2 separate regions of the Homo sapiens genome follow, and region 1 is linked to region 2. The links come from fine-mapping of genetic effects on gene expression. Tissue or cell type: cerebellum. Region 2 holds a variant in brackets; the other region holds the start of a gene. All regions are shown on one strand. Distances are from middle to middle.

Region 1 (8,184 bases), 590 kb after region 2:
AGGTGGAAGGACAATCTGAGCCTGGGGACATTGAGGCTGCAGTGAGCCAAGATCAAGCCAGCGCACTCCAGCCTGGACGATGGCAAAACCCTGTCTTTTCAAAAAATAATTCATATCCTCTCTGGGGATGCAGCCCAATAAGCAAGACTCTTGCCTGGTGAGGACCCGTCTCAAGATTCAATTCATTCCTTCAGTCACTGTCATCCCCAGTCTCCTCCTTTTCTTCCTGAGCCATGGAGTCTTCTCCCTCTTCCCTCAGTCCTGCGAAGAAGTCATCGGTGCTCCAAGTCTTGCTGCTCAGAGCCCGCAGTGGTCCTCCCTTTTTTTTGCGCCGACGGTAGTCATCCACCACCACAGCTCGCAGCTGGGCCATGTCCCAAAACTTGAGGCGCTGGTCATGGCCACTACTGGCCAGGAAGCGGCCACAGTGGGAGAGGGCCAGCTCCTCCACAGGCTCCCCAGTGTGCTGGCCCACACTGCCCACCACTCGGTTCGGTAGGATGTTCACAGCCCTGGGCAGGGAAAGAACAGTGTTGAGTACTGGCTAGCTGGGTCTGCCCTTCCTGTGACCTAAGGGCTGTCCAGGCTTCCCTCACCTGATGACTCCATCAGTGGAGCCAGTACACAGCAGACTCTCGGTGACTGGAACCATGCAGTCGATAGATTCAGCTCTCAGGGCAAAGCGGTCACTTGTGGCCCCAAAGCCATTCCAATTGAAGAGGTAGATGGTACCTTCACTGGAGCCACAGGCTACCTTCTTCCCCCACTGCAGGGAAATAGAGAAAACAATGTGGAAGCTGCCTCAGACTAAGCCCCCAGCACACACCCCTCCATCCCACCATAACCAGCTGTACTTTCATGAGAGTGACAGAGGTCAGGTCCCCAGACTGAGGTTCTGAGAGCAGCTCAAACCGACGCCTCTTAATGTTGAAGATGCCAAGGCAGCCATCCCCGCTGTAGAGAGTAGAGCAGTAGGCTTAGACGCAAGGTCTATTTGAGGAAGACATTTCACACAGGGAGGGGAGGGGAGGCAAGGCAGCTTTGAAGTTGTACCTGGCTGTCAGCAGCAGCTTTTTGGCTGGATCCAGAGCCATGTCTGCGATGTACTCTTCATGTTGCCTCATATCCATTAAGGGGCCCTCCTTCCGCTGGTCCCAGAGACAGATACCACCTGTGTCATCCCCAGTGGCCAGAACATTCTCATCCACCAGCAGAAGACTATTGATGGGGGCACTAGAGACACAGATGTAGAACTTCTTGGAGCATCTCTGTCCCAGTGGGGACCTCCTGGTCCTTACCCTTCACCTCCATGCACATACACAGAATTGGCTGCTCTCCTTACCCATGAGCCTTGGAAACACGTCTTTCCAGTTGGCCCTGCTCCACATCTAGAACATGGATGGCTTTGTCCTTGGAGACAGTAATGAGCTCTGGGGAAAAGGTGCCCAGGTCATGGTGCTGCTCACTGCTCCCTTCCACCACATTGCTGGTTGTCTTCCCCAGTACTCACTCTGCCCATCTTCAGAGAAGGCCACAGCTCGGCAGGCCTTGAGATGGTGACCTGATGACCAGAGCTCCTTGGTTTCTCCCTCTTGGCAAGAGTAGGAAAAGCTGGGGAGAGGGCAAGGAGGGTAAATGACTCCAGACCCAGCCTGGGTTGCATTGAGTGCAGAGACCAACTAGACAGAGCAGCCTTCCCACCTACCTAAGAGTTCCTGCTTCTACACCTCTAAGCCCAAAAAGTTTACCATCTCATTTCTCCATTTTCAGTGAGTTTGAAATGTTAGGTCCTGCTTTTTTCAATATATGTTAGTTCAAGGTATATTTGCGCAAGATTTCTTTGTGATCCCACCCAACCCCTCTTTATCATCTTTGAAAGCCCCAGCCTGGACAAAGATTGGGTCTGGACCACTGTGGAGGAGATATTTGTTACATCAATGACAAAAGACCAGCCCCAGAAGTTAGAAATCTAAAAATCAGTAAGGTAGAGCAGGCTCTTGCACTTCAGGTCTGCAGGAGCTAGAGAAAGCCACAATTAATTACAGTACATTGAGAGTACGTGCTGAAAAAGAGGCAAGATCAAAATGGAGGTGGGGGAGAGGCACCAGCCTGTAAACAACTTTGAGGTGAGTACTGTTTATGGAATACCCCCAAGTGCCTGCCTCAGAGCAGATCCTCAAAAAGGGCAGAATGAATACATGCTTAATTGCCAGTGAGTTCCAGGTAGGCAGAACTGAGCCTGCTCATTTTCTCTATCCCAGTGCTGAACGTGAAAAAGTAGCTTAATAAACATTCACAAATTGAATGAATACTTGGGAAGGGAGAAGAGAGCCCTGGAAAGCTAAGGTGGTGACATGTGGGTTGGATCATACAAGAGTAGAATTTGCCTGGCAGAGAGCAAGGGCCAGATACTGGAGGCAGCAGAGATAAGGAATGAGGAGGGTTCCTTGTAGCAGGAGAGTAGCATGACTGAATCTAGAAAGATGGGCTGGGGTGGGCATGAGACCACATGAGCCAAGCAGAAGTTTGAATTTAATCCTCGGAAAAGGAACCTTTTCACAATAGTCATGGCTGAGGGTGGGGAAGGGGAGAACCAAGAATTTTCCTCCAGAACCTTTTTTAAGACAAGGGAAGCAACAAAGTTGTGTGGAATGTGAAGAAAGGTGGATGTCTAGGGCAACTCCCAAGTGCCTGGCACCATAAATATGGATAGTAGTAGAAGGGAACCTACATTTGTTGAAGAGCTGCTTAGGTGCTGTACTGCAAACTTGTCCCCTCTGCAAGGGTAGGTATAATTCCCCCTTTCAAAGATGAAAATACAGAAGTTAACACGCTCAAGGCCATTACAGCTAATGAGGGGTTGAGGTTTAAATTCATTAAGTAAATCTGATAAGCATAACATCTTCAACTTTTCCACTGCCTCTAACCTGTATCTTTTGTTCAAAATCAAACATGTGTTGAGCATCTACCCTAGACTAGAGGTTGGAGATAAAATAGAGAACAAAACCGATGACAGATTACACTCCAGAACAGTGTTTTTTCACATTCTAGTCATATAACGGACTAGTAAGCTACGATCAGCATTTTGTGTACATGTACACAATAATAGAATAAAATCAGCAATTGTATCACAGAGCATCATATATAATGTAAAAGGTATTTCTCTGTGAGGCAAGGTCAAAGACGTTTGAAAAACATTAGTGAAGGAGACAGCATTCAAATAATTACACAAATGGACATATGGTTACCAACCATTCATTATTAAGGGAAAGGTACCATGGCACCTGGTGCCATGGCAGCATCTAACAGGTAACCAATTTTAGTCTGGGGAGAGAGGAAGAGGGAAGAGATCCTGGAAACTCAGAGATAGTAGGTAAAAGTGAGGGGAAAGGAGTTTTCCGGACAGAATAGCACATGCAAATGGGCTGAGGTTTCGAGATTTTTTTTTGAGATGGAGTTTTGCTCTTGTTGCCCAGGCTGGAGTGCAATGGCACGATCTCGGCTCACTGCCACCTCCACCTCCCAGGTTCAAGCGATTCTCCTGCCTCAGCCTCCCGAGAAGCTGGGATTACAGGTGCCCGCCACCACACCCAGCTAATTTTTCTATTTTTAGTAGAGACAGGATTTCACCATGTTGGCCAGGCTGGTCTCCAACTCCTGACCTCAGGTGATACCCCACCTTGGTCTCCCAAAGTGCTGGGATTACAGGCATGAGCCACCACGCCCGGCCCAAGACGTATTTTTAAAAGGTATGGATGAATGAGCACAGATGGTCAGGGCGTTGAAGGCAGGATTGAGAAATTTGTACTAAATCCTAAAAGCAGACCATTGAAGGGTTTTAATCAAGGGAGTGTCTCACTCTATTGTCCAAGCTGGAGTGCAGTGGCACGATCTTGGCTCACTGCAACCTCCACCGCCCGAATCCAAGTGATTCTTCTGCCTCAGCCTCCCGTGTAGCTGGGATTACAGGCCCGCGCCACCACACCGGGCTAATTTTTGTATTTTTAGTAGAGACGGGGTTTCACCATGTTGAACAGGCTGGTCTCGAGCTCCAACCTCAGGTGACCCGCCCACCTCGGCCTCCCAAAGTGCGGGTATTACAGGCGTGAGCCAAGATTTGTGGTTTGAAAAATCACTTAAAGGGGCCTGCTGAGCCTGTCTCGGGCACAATATAATAATCCGGTAGGAGTCCGGGCACGGTGGTTTACGCCTGTAATCCCAGCACTCTGGGAGGAAGGCAGGTGGATCACGAGGTCAGGAGTTCAAGACCAGCCTGGCCAAGATGGTGAAACCCCGTCTCTACTACAAATACAAAAAAAATTAGCCGGGCGTGGTGGCGGGCGCTTATAATCCCAGCTACTCGGGAGGCTGAGGAAGAGAACTGCTTGAACCCGGAAGGGGGAGGTTGCAGTGAGCCCAGATCGCGCCACTGCACTCCAGCCTCGGCGACAGAGCGAGACTCCGTCTCAAAAATAAATAGGTAAGTAAATAAATAATAATCGGTGGGAAATAACAAGGCCTTAAAGGGCTTTTTGGCCTACTACGGTATCTGGGCTCTGTCACGACATTCCAGTTCTTTCAACAGATTGGTGTGATAGAAGAGCCGAATGTTACTGAATAAATTGGACCCAAAGAATCTTGCAAAATTTGTCTCCCTGCAACTTTCTCTCATCTCTCCTGTTCCCAGGTCCACCCCCGGGAAGCTTCCAGACCCGGCGCCCCGGCCCTGCCCCGCTCTCACACGAACACGTCCCCGTCCACGTCCCCTGCAGCCAGTAGGTCACGGGCCGGATGGAACGCCAGCCCACTAGCCGGAGCTTCCAGCACGATGTCTTCCGGAGTGTCCCGGATCCGGGTTGGGGCTTCCATGGAGTCTGGGTCCTCCTCGTCGCTCCCATCCTCAGCGGGCCTCTCCTCACAAGTGCGGTCCATGCTGAGAAGGACTGCGAGCCGCGCCGCCGCAGGGTAGTCAGCCTCGGAACCACCCACACTGCGGGAGGAGTAGCCTGGCACTCCGCTTCCGCCTCGGGGGGCGGGGCCGGAAGTGTCTCCGGGACGTTCTTCCTCTTACAGGAGAGGTGGGTGGGCCGCTGCTGGTGCGGGTGGAGCGGAGCGAAGAGACCGCATCTGGGAGATCGGCTACTTCCTTGTCCTGCTGTGACCCCGTTTGGGCTAGGTAGACGGTGCGACCGTCAATTCCCTCCCTAGTCACGTCACGTAAAGTTGAGAACTGCGTGTAAATCTTTCCTCTCCTACTTCATCCAGACAGGCTTAATGCCCTTGGGATAGGAGAGAGGGACGCTAGTCCTTCGTGGCTTGGTGAAACCCAAGATCAAGTCAAGCGACAGCCTGGGCTGTCAGGAAGCCGCAAAATCCCACGCTGCGCGATGACATACGGGAGTCTGGGACAGCAGGCAGCTCAAGCAGCTGGTGTCCACGCCCCTAACGTCTTTGTGGCCAGTTTGCTGTGCCAGTTCCTACAATTTGTCTACAGAAACTCAATGGGCTGGACAAGCAGTGCTCAGTTACCAAGAATTTTTTTTTCTTTTTTGTTTTGCTTTGTTTTGAGACAGGGTCTTGCGCTGTCGCGCAGGCTGGAGTGCAGTGGCACGATCACCGCTCGGCTCAAGCGATCCTCCGAGTAGCTGGAACTACAGGCACGCGGCACCACGCCTGGCTAATTTTTATTTATTTATTGAGACGGAGTCTCGCCCTGGCTGGAGTGCAATGGTGCGATCTCGGCTCACTGCAACCTCCGTCTCCCGGGTTCAAGAGATTTTCCTGCCTCAGCCTACCGAGTAGATGGGACTAGAGGCGCATGCCACCACGCCCAGCTAATTTTTTGTATCTTTAGTAGAAACAGGGTTTCACCATGTTGGCCAGGCTGGTCTCAAACTCCTGACCTCGTGATCCGCCCGCCTTGGCCTCCCAAAGTGCTGGGACTACAGGCGTGAGCCACCGCACCTGGCCAATTTTTGTATATTTTGTAGAAACGAGGACTCAGTATGTTGCCCAGGCTGGCCTTGAACTCTTGACGTGTCTTCCCACCTCAGCCTCCCAAAGTGCTAGGATTATAGGCGTGAGCCACGGCGCCCAGCCCCTGAATTTCTTTTTTTAAATCAAGGTCTTGCTCTGTCACCCAGGCTCAGAATGCAGTGGTGTGATCATAGCTCACTACAGCCTTGAACTCTTCGGTTCGATCCTCCTGCATAGCTATAGACTCATGAACTCCTGGCCTCAAGAGACTCTCCTGCTTTGGCCTCCCAAAGCACTGAGACTGTGGGCATGAGCCATCGAGCCTGGCCTCAGAAACTGAATTTCAAACCCACAATCTCCAGGTCTTGCTTTTAGTGACTCTCCAGATGTCTTCACCTGTGCCATGTCTCTGTGACCATTTTTAATAATTGGGACTGCCTACCTACATCCATAGAACCATGGTGTCATTTGTCTGAAATTAGCCATTCTAGGTGCTATTGCAGCAAGGCCCAATTTCAGCCTCTTACATGCCATGCACAATACTGGCTTCCTCACAAAAACCTGTCCTACCAAGGTGAATATAATCAAAGACAAGGTAATGGCTAAGGTGACTTTCTAGCTTTCTTGGATCTGGTGAGGCCACAAATCTTGGGCTCAGGGTAGACAGTGGCAGCGTGGCATCCAGCCAGGAAGCAGTAGTGACACCTAATGATGAGCACCAGGCCAAAGTGCTGGTAATGAGCAGAAGGGAAGAAAAGGGAAGGGAATGGTGTGATTCAAAGGTCAACAGACCTATTCTGGGCCTTGGCAAATGTTTCAGGGTGATGAAGGGCACCAAACCCTTCTGGTCTAGGATAGGAATTCCTGTACCTGCAGGGCCACACTATATCAGCTCTAAACCCAAAGCACTTCCCTAAGGTTACACCTTTAGCCAAGGAGACAGTGATTTGTACTCAACATTAATAAAGCTCATAGTACATAAACTCATAAAAGGTTTTGGTTCCCACCCATAAGTGATTTTCATTAGATGCCTTCATCCAGAGCCCAGTCCTTCATAGCCTGGAGATCAGATTAGCAGCCCATCAGGCTGACAGCAATCCCCAGGAAATCTTTCCCCAGGGACTAGGCCTGAAGATGGGCCGGAATGAGTCTGACATTTGAGACCAATCATACTTACATTCCTCTATCCACCTCTTGCCCATCAGTGAGGATCATTATTCTCTTCTCTACTGGGCACACTGGCTAGAGAGCATCCTTACTGTCTAGGAATCTAGAACCACAGCTCAGGAAAGGACTGATGACTTTCTGCATGTGATTTTACACAACCAGTGGAATTAGTGTTCTTGGTGCTTCAAGGGCACTGGAGGGGACATGCTCAACAAAGAAAATAGCAAGTTAACCAATTTTAATGGAACCAAGTAATTACACAATAAAATTTTATATTCATCCACAAAAAAACATCTTGCAACCTTTGGAAATTGTAGAAAGAAAACAGTGGGGAGCATATCCTTGTGGAGCATCTCTGGTTGTAACTAGTGATTAGTATTTTGGTCTTTTGACTTCAACCCTGCAATGGAAGGAGAAATGGGTCAGTATAAGATCAATACACTAAGCAATTCCCACCAGTCCCACAGAGGAAGAATAATGCCGCTCACCCATCAGCTTCCATCTTCTTCCTCTTCTCAATGATCTGCAAAAACAACAGGATAGTCTATCACCAAGCTGCCCATCTAAGCTCACCTGAGGCCCAAGGCTGACCTCTCATTTCCATGGCTCTCCAGCCCCTTGCCTGTTCCTGAATCTGCAGGCTAATGTCTTCTCCCAGCTGAAACCCTCCCACCCAAGGGGCCATCCTACTTACTGCACTAATCTTCTTCCACTGGCGATCAAGCTCTGCTTTGTCATTGGTTTCCTTGAAGCGCCTGGTTTTCCGCCCTTCAGACATTTTGATACCATACTGGAATGCAGCCCTGAAAAAAGCAGTTGGGAAAGAATGCATCAGAGATTGCATAGCAGTGGCGAGGTTTTCCCAGAGTCCTGTGGGCAAAGAACTTAGTGGGGAACATCTCAGCCAGACCACACCCTCTAACCTTATATGCACTATTCCACCAAATCCCCACACCCCTCCTCACACCCTGCCCATATTCAGTACCGACTCACTTGGGCAAAGCTTCTTTGTTGTTCATATACTCGCTGTATTCTTCCTGG
Region 2 (8,184 bases):
TGAGTTATCACATATGCCCTAAAGGATTAGGGGCAACTCAAGGTTTTTCTACATTTTTATGTTAATAAGATTTCTCTTCAGTGAGAGTTTTCACATGTTTTCTAAAAGATTAAAGAAAATTGAAAGCTTTTTCACATTTCTTATACTCATAAGGCTTATCTCCACTGTCTACTGTGAGTTCATTTTTTTTTTTTTTTTTTTTTGTGAGACGGAGTCTCGCTCTGTCACCCAGGCTGGAGTGCAGTGGCATGATCCTGGCTCACTACAACCTCTACCTCCTGGGTTCAAGCAATTCTCCTGTCTCAGCCTCCTGAGTAGCTGGGATTACAGGTGCACGTCACCACACCTGGCTAATTTTTGTATTTTTAGTAGAGATGGGGTTTCACCATATTGGTAAGGCTGGTCTTGAACTCCTAACCTCAGGTGATCTACCCGCCTTGGCCTCCCAAAGTGCTGGAATTACAGGCATGAGCCACCGTGCCCAGCCCACTGTGAGTTCTTACATGTACATCAATAAATGAAGAATGAACAAAGGCTTGCTTACATGTCTATTCATAGAATTCTTCTCCAGTGTGAAATTTTTCATGATTCCTAAAATACAAGGAACACATAAAGGATTCCCTCTATTCCTTACTTTGATAGGGTATGTGTTCAGTGTGTGATGCCATGTGTGTTTTTAACAAGTGAAAGATCAGTGAAGACTTTCTTGCATTCACTGAATTCACATAATTTCCCTGCAGCATGAGTTCTCTAGTGCACATTTAGATTTGAAATCTGGCTGAGATCTTTTCATGTTTATTACTCTCATTATATTTGTATCCAATTTGGAGTATTTTCTACAGAGTAGACATCAAGATCTTTTTGAGAGATTTTCAAATTTGATTATATTCATAGAGGTTTTCCACCATATGAATTCTCAAATATATGTCCTGTGTCTTGTGCTGATCCATCTATGTCATGGCAAAAGAATGAGGATTGCATAATTGGAGGTTTTTTATATTGTAACTTAAGTAGTATAATACTAATTGAAGGTAGACCATGATAAGAAAAGGCAGTATATTGTCATCCTTAGAAGAAATACTCCTGAAACTGTTGTAGCTAAAAATTCAAATAAGGATATAAAATGGAATATGAAAAATATTTAATCAAGTCAAAAGAAAACAGAAAATGAGGAACAAAGGATTTCAAAGGAAAACAGAAAATGGGGAACATAGGAATGAAAATGGAGGGTATGAATAAAATTGCAATAGAGACAATCATGTTATAAATAATTACATTACATATAAATGGAATAAACTCTCCAATTAAAAAGCAAACATATTAACACTGGATAAAATGCAAGATTTAATGCTATGTTGTTTTAAAAAGATGCTTTTTAAATATAAATACAGGTTGAAAGTAAAGAATGAAAAAATATATCATGCAAACCTTAAGCATAAGACATGTAGACTGACTATATTAATATCAGACAGAGTAACTAGAGACTAAATGAGACATTTTATAATAATGAGCGTCAGTTCATCAAGCAGCTATCCATTGTGCATGTAATAACAGAGCTTTAAAGTACATGAGATTAACAAATGATAGAACTGAAAATAAATAAAAAATTCACAACAAACATGCTGGAGAGGATGTGGAGAAAAAGGAACACTTTTACACTGTTAGTGGGAGTATAAACTAGTTCAACCATTGTGGAAGACAGTGTGGCTACTCCTCAAGGATCTAGAACTAGAAATACCATTTGACCCAGCGATCCCATTACTGGGCATATACCCAAAGGATTATAAATCATGCTACTATAAAGACACATGTATGTTTATTGCAGCACTATTTACAATAGCAAAAACTTGGAACCAACCCAAATGTCCATCAGTGATAGACTGGATTAAGAAAATGTGGCACATATACCCCATGGAAGACTATGCAGCCATAAAAAAGGATGAGTTCATGTCCTTTGCAGGGACATGGATGCAGCTGGAAACCATCAATCTGAGCAAACTATCACCAGGACAGAAAACCAAACACCGCATATTGTCACTCATAGGTGGGAATTGAACAATGAGAACACTTGGACACAGGGTGGGGAACATCACACACAGGGGCCTGTCATGGGGTGGGGGGCAGGGTGGGCATTGGGAGAAATATCTAATGTAAATGACGAGCTAATGGGTGTAGCAAACCAACATGGCACATGTATACCTATGTAACAAACTTGCATGTTGTGCACATGTACCCTATAACTTAAAGTATAATTAAAAAATAAAAACTCACAATCACAGGTGAAGAATTTAACACTCTTCTCCTAATAACTGGCAGAACATGTAGAAACAATGTTAAGAATAAAGAAGATCTAAAAACATTATCAAGTGACTTGATTTAATTGATATTTACAGAATACTCAACCAACAACTGTAGGTTACACATTTCTTTCAAGTACACATGGGGAACTCACCATGGTAACTTACATGCTGAATAATTTTTAATGACTTCATAAATCTCAAAGGGTTGAAATTTTACAGAGTATGCTCCAAGACCAAAAAATAATTATTTTGGAAATCAAAAATGTTACCTTTGGATAGTTGGAAATTAAGCAACACGATTATAGTCAAGCAATGGATCAAAGAAGAATAGTACAAACTGAATGGCAATAAAAACACAAACTAGTCAAGTTCATGAAATGCAACTTAAGTAATATACAGGAAGAAATTTATAACTTCATATTTTTATATATTTTCAAGTGTGTTAGAAAAGAAAGGCTTAGAATCAATGATCTGAGCTTTCAGAGAAGCTAGAAAAAGAGAAAACTAAACTCAAAATACATAGAATAAAAGAAATAAAAACAGAATAGCAGAAATCAATAAAATAGGAAACAAAAAGGAGTCTAGAAAAGGTAGCTCACACGTGTAATCCCAGCATTTTTGAAGGTTGAGGTGGGAGGATTGCTTAAGCTCAGAAGTTTGAGGCCAACTTAGGCAACATAGTGAGGCACTGTCTCTACAAAAATAAAAATAAAAATAATTAGCTGGATTTGATGGCATGCACCTGTAGTCCTAGCTGTTCACGAGGTTGAGGCAGGAGGATCTCTCTTTCTCTCTTTTGTGTGTGTGTGTGTGTGAGTGATGGAATTTTGCTGTTTCGCACAGGCTGGAGTGAAGTGGCGCGATCTTGGCTTACTGCAACCTCTGACCCCCGGGGTTCAAGC[G/A]ATTCTCCTGCCTCAGCCTCCCTAGTAGCTGGGATTACAGGTGCCCGCCACCATGCCTGGCTAATTTTTGTAGAGATGGAGTTTCACCATGTTTGCCAGGCTGGTCTCAAACTCCTGACCTCAGGTAATCCATCTGCCTGGGCCTCCCAAAGTGCTAGGATTACAGGTGTGAGCCACCATGCCTAGCCTTAGGAGGGTCTCTTGAGGCTAGCAGTTTGATGTCACAGTGAGCTATATCGCATCACTGCACTCCAGCCTTTTTTTCTCTGAGAAAAGGAAGAAAACAGAAAGTAATAGGAAAAGTAGTGAAACCAATGATTGTCTTGTTTTTCAAAATTAACAAAATTGGTACATTGACAGAAATACCAATAAAGACAAAAAGAGGGAAAACATAAATTACCAATATCCATAGTGAAAGGGGGAGGGCCTCACTGCAGATTCTAAATATATTGAAAGATGAGAAAGAAATAGTATCAATAGCTTCATGAAAATAACTTCAACATCTTTGATAAAATAGACAAATTTGCTTAAAAAACACAAGCTGCCAGCTGCCGACAGAAGAGGAAACAGAAAATTAGAATTGCAGCATATTTATTTAAGAAATTGAGTGTGCAATTCAAAATCTTCCCACAAAGAAAATGTCATTCATGGTTGGGTTCTGCAGTAAATTCTATCAAATACATAAAGTAGAAATAATAACTATCTTACATAAACTCTTTCATAAAAGAAGAAGTGGAGGAAACAATTGGCAAGTCATTTGATGAGACCAGGAGAACCCTGAAACTAAATCCTGACAAGGGTATTACAAGAAAAAAAATTGTAGATCAACATCTCTCATGAATATAGATGCACAAATTCTCAACAAAATTAGCACACTGACTTGGCTGCATGTCACCTGGAAGAAAAACTTACAAACAATTTTCCTAGACAATCATGATCACACAGGTGCTGTTCCATTCCCACTCTGCATGACTCCAGCTCATGAGATCTGCTTGGATGTCTTTGGATTCTTCCATCATTGCCCCTGCCACTCCATATTTGGAATAGGACTTGCTTCAGATTTCTTTGCTTGAATTCCAATTGTAGCCATCACTGTTACCATAGTAACATTTGAACTTGCAAGTTGGAAACAACGAACAACTGGGACAAGGGCAAAGCAAGTAACTCAGATGCAAATTTTAAGTCATTATCCCAAAACTTGGAGATAAATACTATTTGTTACAATATTGTAAAAATTAAAATTTAATGTAAACACCCATGAGAAACAAAATATGAAATTTTAAGTGAGGACAGGAACCACCCTGCCCTTGCACACATTTGCCACACTGACCTCACCCTCATCCTGTCAGATCCTATTGTCAACTTTATTGTTTCCTGATCTCACTGGGGGAAAATTTACCATGTCTACTTCACAGCTCCTTCTCCTAGGCTACTCCTTCAAGGCCAAAAAGGTCACGAAAATTCTAAATTCAATAATGTTGGGATTGTTCCATTTGCAAGAAATAACTTCCTTTCATTTGAAAATATAAACTCTTCTACAATACATTGCTAACACCAACTTTATTAAATACATTCATAGATTAAAGAAAAAATCTTAATGTGGAAAAGTTTTGGAAAAGCAATGTTATTCTGGTATTTATCTCTGCATTTTATTGCCACTGTCTACTAAAGCCACCCACCAGAGACACACACATATACAGGCACAAATGCACACACACAAATACACAAACCACTATGGGGTTTTGTGTATTTGTAGCTATAGATTTCTAAAATTGTTTGAGGCATCATCATTTATGTATCATGATAGATTTTTCTCGACTTTTTGGTGACTATGCTGATAAATGGAAGTAATGCTCTTCTCAAGGTATTCCAGATCAGTCTAAGAAAGACAAAATTATTAATCCTTTAGAGATGCCTTTAAATTCTAGACTTTACCCATAAAACATTTGTAAATTAAGATACAAAGGAAGTAGTACACATTCGGATCTCTGGGCCTGTTTCAAAACATGCATTTCTATATGTAAGAAGTTTGTCAGGAATTAATCAAATATGTTTTTTGGAAAAGGTAAGAGAAAGACCAAATCTAAAAGTAGTAGTAATGAGCTTTCTTCTCTCATTTGGTATACAACTTAATATTATCTTGAAAATGACCATCATTGCCACAAGTGACAGGGACTACTAATGATTGGGTACTAATGGTAATAACCTAGAGGAAATGGCATTTGCTGTTCTCCAGCCATTAATATTCATAATGGGGGCTGTAAATATGGTGCCAACTTCTGAAAGTCCTAGAATTCACGAGAATTTTTAATTTTTTTATGACTATGCTGATAACCAGAAGTAATGCAGTTATCAAAAGCCCCAGTCAGTTAGATAATGATTACTGCAGTCAGAAACATAGAAAGGTCAAGAACAAATTCATGTATTTAAGTCATTTTGCTATTACATCTCTTCCTTTGACATATCATTAAGGGGGCATCTAGGTGTGTAAGAAAAAATCCACTTAAAAAGATGCTAATAGCTACTGTGCTAGCTAAAATGAATGTTCTGCAGAAAATTTTGATGAAGAAATAGATGTCACAGGCCTCACTGATTTTAATTCCCATTTTAAGAGGAACCACCCTCAATTGCCACCACTCCAGATAGTCTACTTTGCCCTTCCTACTGGGCATCAGTTTTCTTTAGTGAGCTGAGCAGTATACTGAAATTCAGCATCAATGTTGAGTTGCCATTGTCACCTATGACCATTCCACAGACAAATGCCTGGATGTTCAAAGTAATTGAGCTGCCATCTATCTGTTGCCCTGATTGTGAAGTAAAATTTCTTTAATATTTGCAGACACATAAAATACAAGAATTATGAAGAAAATGTTCACTGTGATTCCCTTAATTTCTAATCATTGGTGTTGGTGAATACTGACACATGCAGATATGTGTTTGCCTCCCCTTTTCCAGGGAGTGCATATATCTCCACCCCATTGGACTCTTGTAAAACAAATGGGAGCAGTCATATTATTAAACCAAAAAACACAAATCTCCTGCTTCCTAGCCCTAGTTTGGAATTGATATCAGCCCACCAGTATTTCCAAACTTGGTACCAGAAAAGGCATGAGTCAACTTATAATAGTTATAAAATAACTTTTAGGCTCTTGAAATATAAGCGCATTTTTCTCCATGTAAAGGAAGCTGGTCTGCAGTAAAAGGGAATGAAACCAGCAGGATAGAAAAAATGGTCAAGTCCTTGTTTCTAATTGTTATGGCCCTACCTTTCAATCAGTTTTATTTCCAAACATATCCTAAATTACTTTATATACCCTAATATCTTCTCAATAAATTCTGTATTTTATCTTGAGAGCTAATTTGAATTGGGTTTCTGTTGATTAATACTAAAAGAATTTAGACTAACAGAAGTATTAATTTGGCAAAAGATCTTCCTGGTTAGTACATTTTCTGTTACTATGAATTATGAATTTCTAAAAGTCATTTTCAATGCAGAATATAAGAGATATGTAGAAGAGCATACACTTTTCAAACATGATTCTGAATGTTGATGGCAGTAGTGACAATTTGAGGAGTAACATGTAGGGACAGGCTAGTTGAGTGACACAAGATTCCTTCAAGGAGCATGCTCAGGAATATCTTTAACCTCCATTCTTTGGATCTGGAAAATGTGGAATGCCTGACTTCCCTGGCATGGATCAGACTTTTAACAATGATCAGATGAAAATTTCTGGTCAGAAAGAGAACTTGGAACAGAATTTGGTCAAAGTATTTCATATGCCTTTTTATTTCATGTCAAATGTAATATCCAAACAATGTTGAGGTATTTCCAGAACTGCCTATTTGGACATTTAAAATCTTTTGAATATTCTTAGTTCTTGGCCCGCTCATTCACATTTGAGAGCACATGACACAAGAGGGTTCCCATAGCCTCCCACAGGTAAAACTTCTGCAGTGACTTCCAGGCTACTGATTCAGCAATAGAGACAATATTCTGATTTTTTTTTATTACATTTCCCAGGATAAAGCCTGCAGGGTTTTGCCCAGATTACATTTCTGTTCATGGAGTATTCCAGTGAGGCCTCTATCTGAGTTAGATTTTCATTAAACATCACCAAAGTGAACTCTCATTGAATGCTATTTGGCTTTGCTTGGGAAAAAAGACACAAGCCTCTCCCTTAATAGATTGGAAATACGTATGAAATGAGCTTGCTATATTAGAGCCTATATTCTATCGATTTTACAGGAAAGGAATCCATTTTTACAGGAATAGGCATTGGATTAACAAAAAATATTCATTATGTTTATGTTTCCTTTGTTCTTTTGTGAAGAAAATACATCATCACAGTGTTTATCTAAGATTATAAAACCCTTAGGGGATTATCCCAAAGATAACTCATAACACTCCATTACGACTTCAAAATATCCAGAGAGACCTCTGCTAGTACCACCAAGCTTTCAACTTTTAAGGAAATCTTTTCTAAAAATTCAGCCATCAGCCAAAAGGGATAATTTTATATACATTTAAATAGTCATATTAACTAAATTGTCTAAAATTATACATAATTTCCATGTTTACAGTAATCAAACTAGAAATAGAAGTTCCATGTTGCTCTTTTAAGTAGTGGTTTGGAGGATAGTGAAGAGACACTGCAGCTTATTTTTATTATACCAAAAATATAGCTAATGGGTTTCTCAGAAAACTGTTGCTCCCATTTAAATTCATTTGTGGAAGAAATTAAAATTCTTCTCCACTTTCCAATTGTTGGAATAAGGTAGCTCCCACCTTGTGAATGCTGTCATATGACCACAACTACCTATGTATTCCAATTGCCATTTAGGAAGAAAATAAAAGCAAGGAAGGGAAATAAAGCAAGACGGTCAATGGCCTTAGATTAACATCATAAAAGGCAAGGTGAGACTTACAGAAATCTCAAAAGAAGTCTACAAAATCTGAAAGAGAAAATAGGTAAAATGAATGG

What was found. PIP is the estimated chance that this variant, and not a neighbour inherited with it, causes the effect.
Region 1: it holds the start of WDR55, and the variant in region 2 is fine-mapped to the expression of WDR55 in cerebellum (GTEx, PIP above 0.99).

Annotation. Positions count from the first base shown.
Region 1 is chr5:140,661,661-140,669,844 of GRCh38, reverse strand. WDR55 (WD repeat domain 55) reads right to left here and starts at 4,941. Exons shown (of 7, transcript NM_017706.5): 1 at 4,742-4,941; 2 at 1,511-1,611; 3 at 1,343-1,430; 4 at 1,054-1,233; 5 at 855-954; 6 at 597-766; 7 at 1-512. The coding sequence starts at 4,932. The coding sequence ends at 191. IK (IK cytokine) reads right to left here. Exons shown (of 20, transcript NM_006083.4): 17 at 8,137-8,184; 18 at 7,838-7,946; 19 at 7,632-7,666; 20 at 7,365-7,543. The coding sequence ends at 7,516. It overlaps LOC124901088 (a long non-coding RNA gene), which reads left to right and starts at 4,408. Exons shown (of 2, transcript XR_007058968.1): 1 at 4,408-4,480; 2 at 4,688-7,434. RefSeq lists enhancers at 4,807-4,936, 5,287-5,446, 4,864-5,530.
Region 2 is chr5:141,251,774-141,259,957 of GRCh38, reverse strand. It overlaps the pseudogene LOC100419552. Among named protein-coding and RNA genes, the nearest start is that of PCDHB15, 10 kb to the right of the region's middle. The variant G/A (reference allele first, on the strand shown) is at 3,203.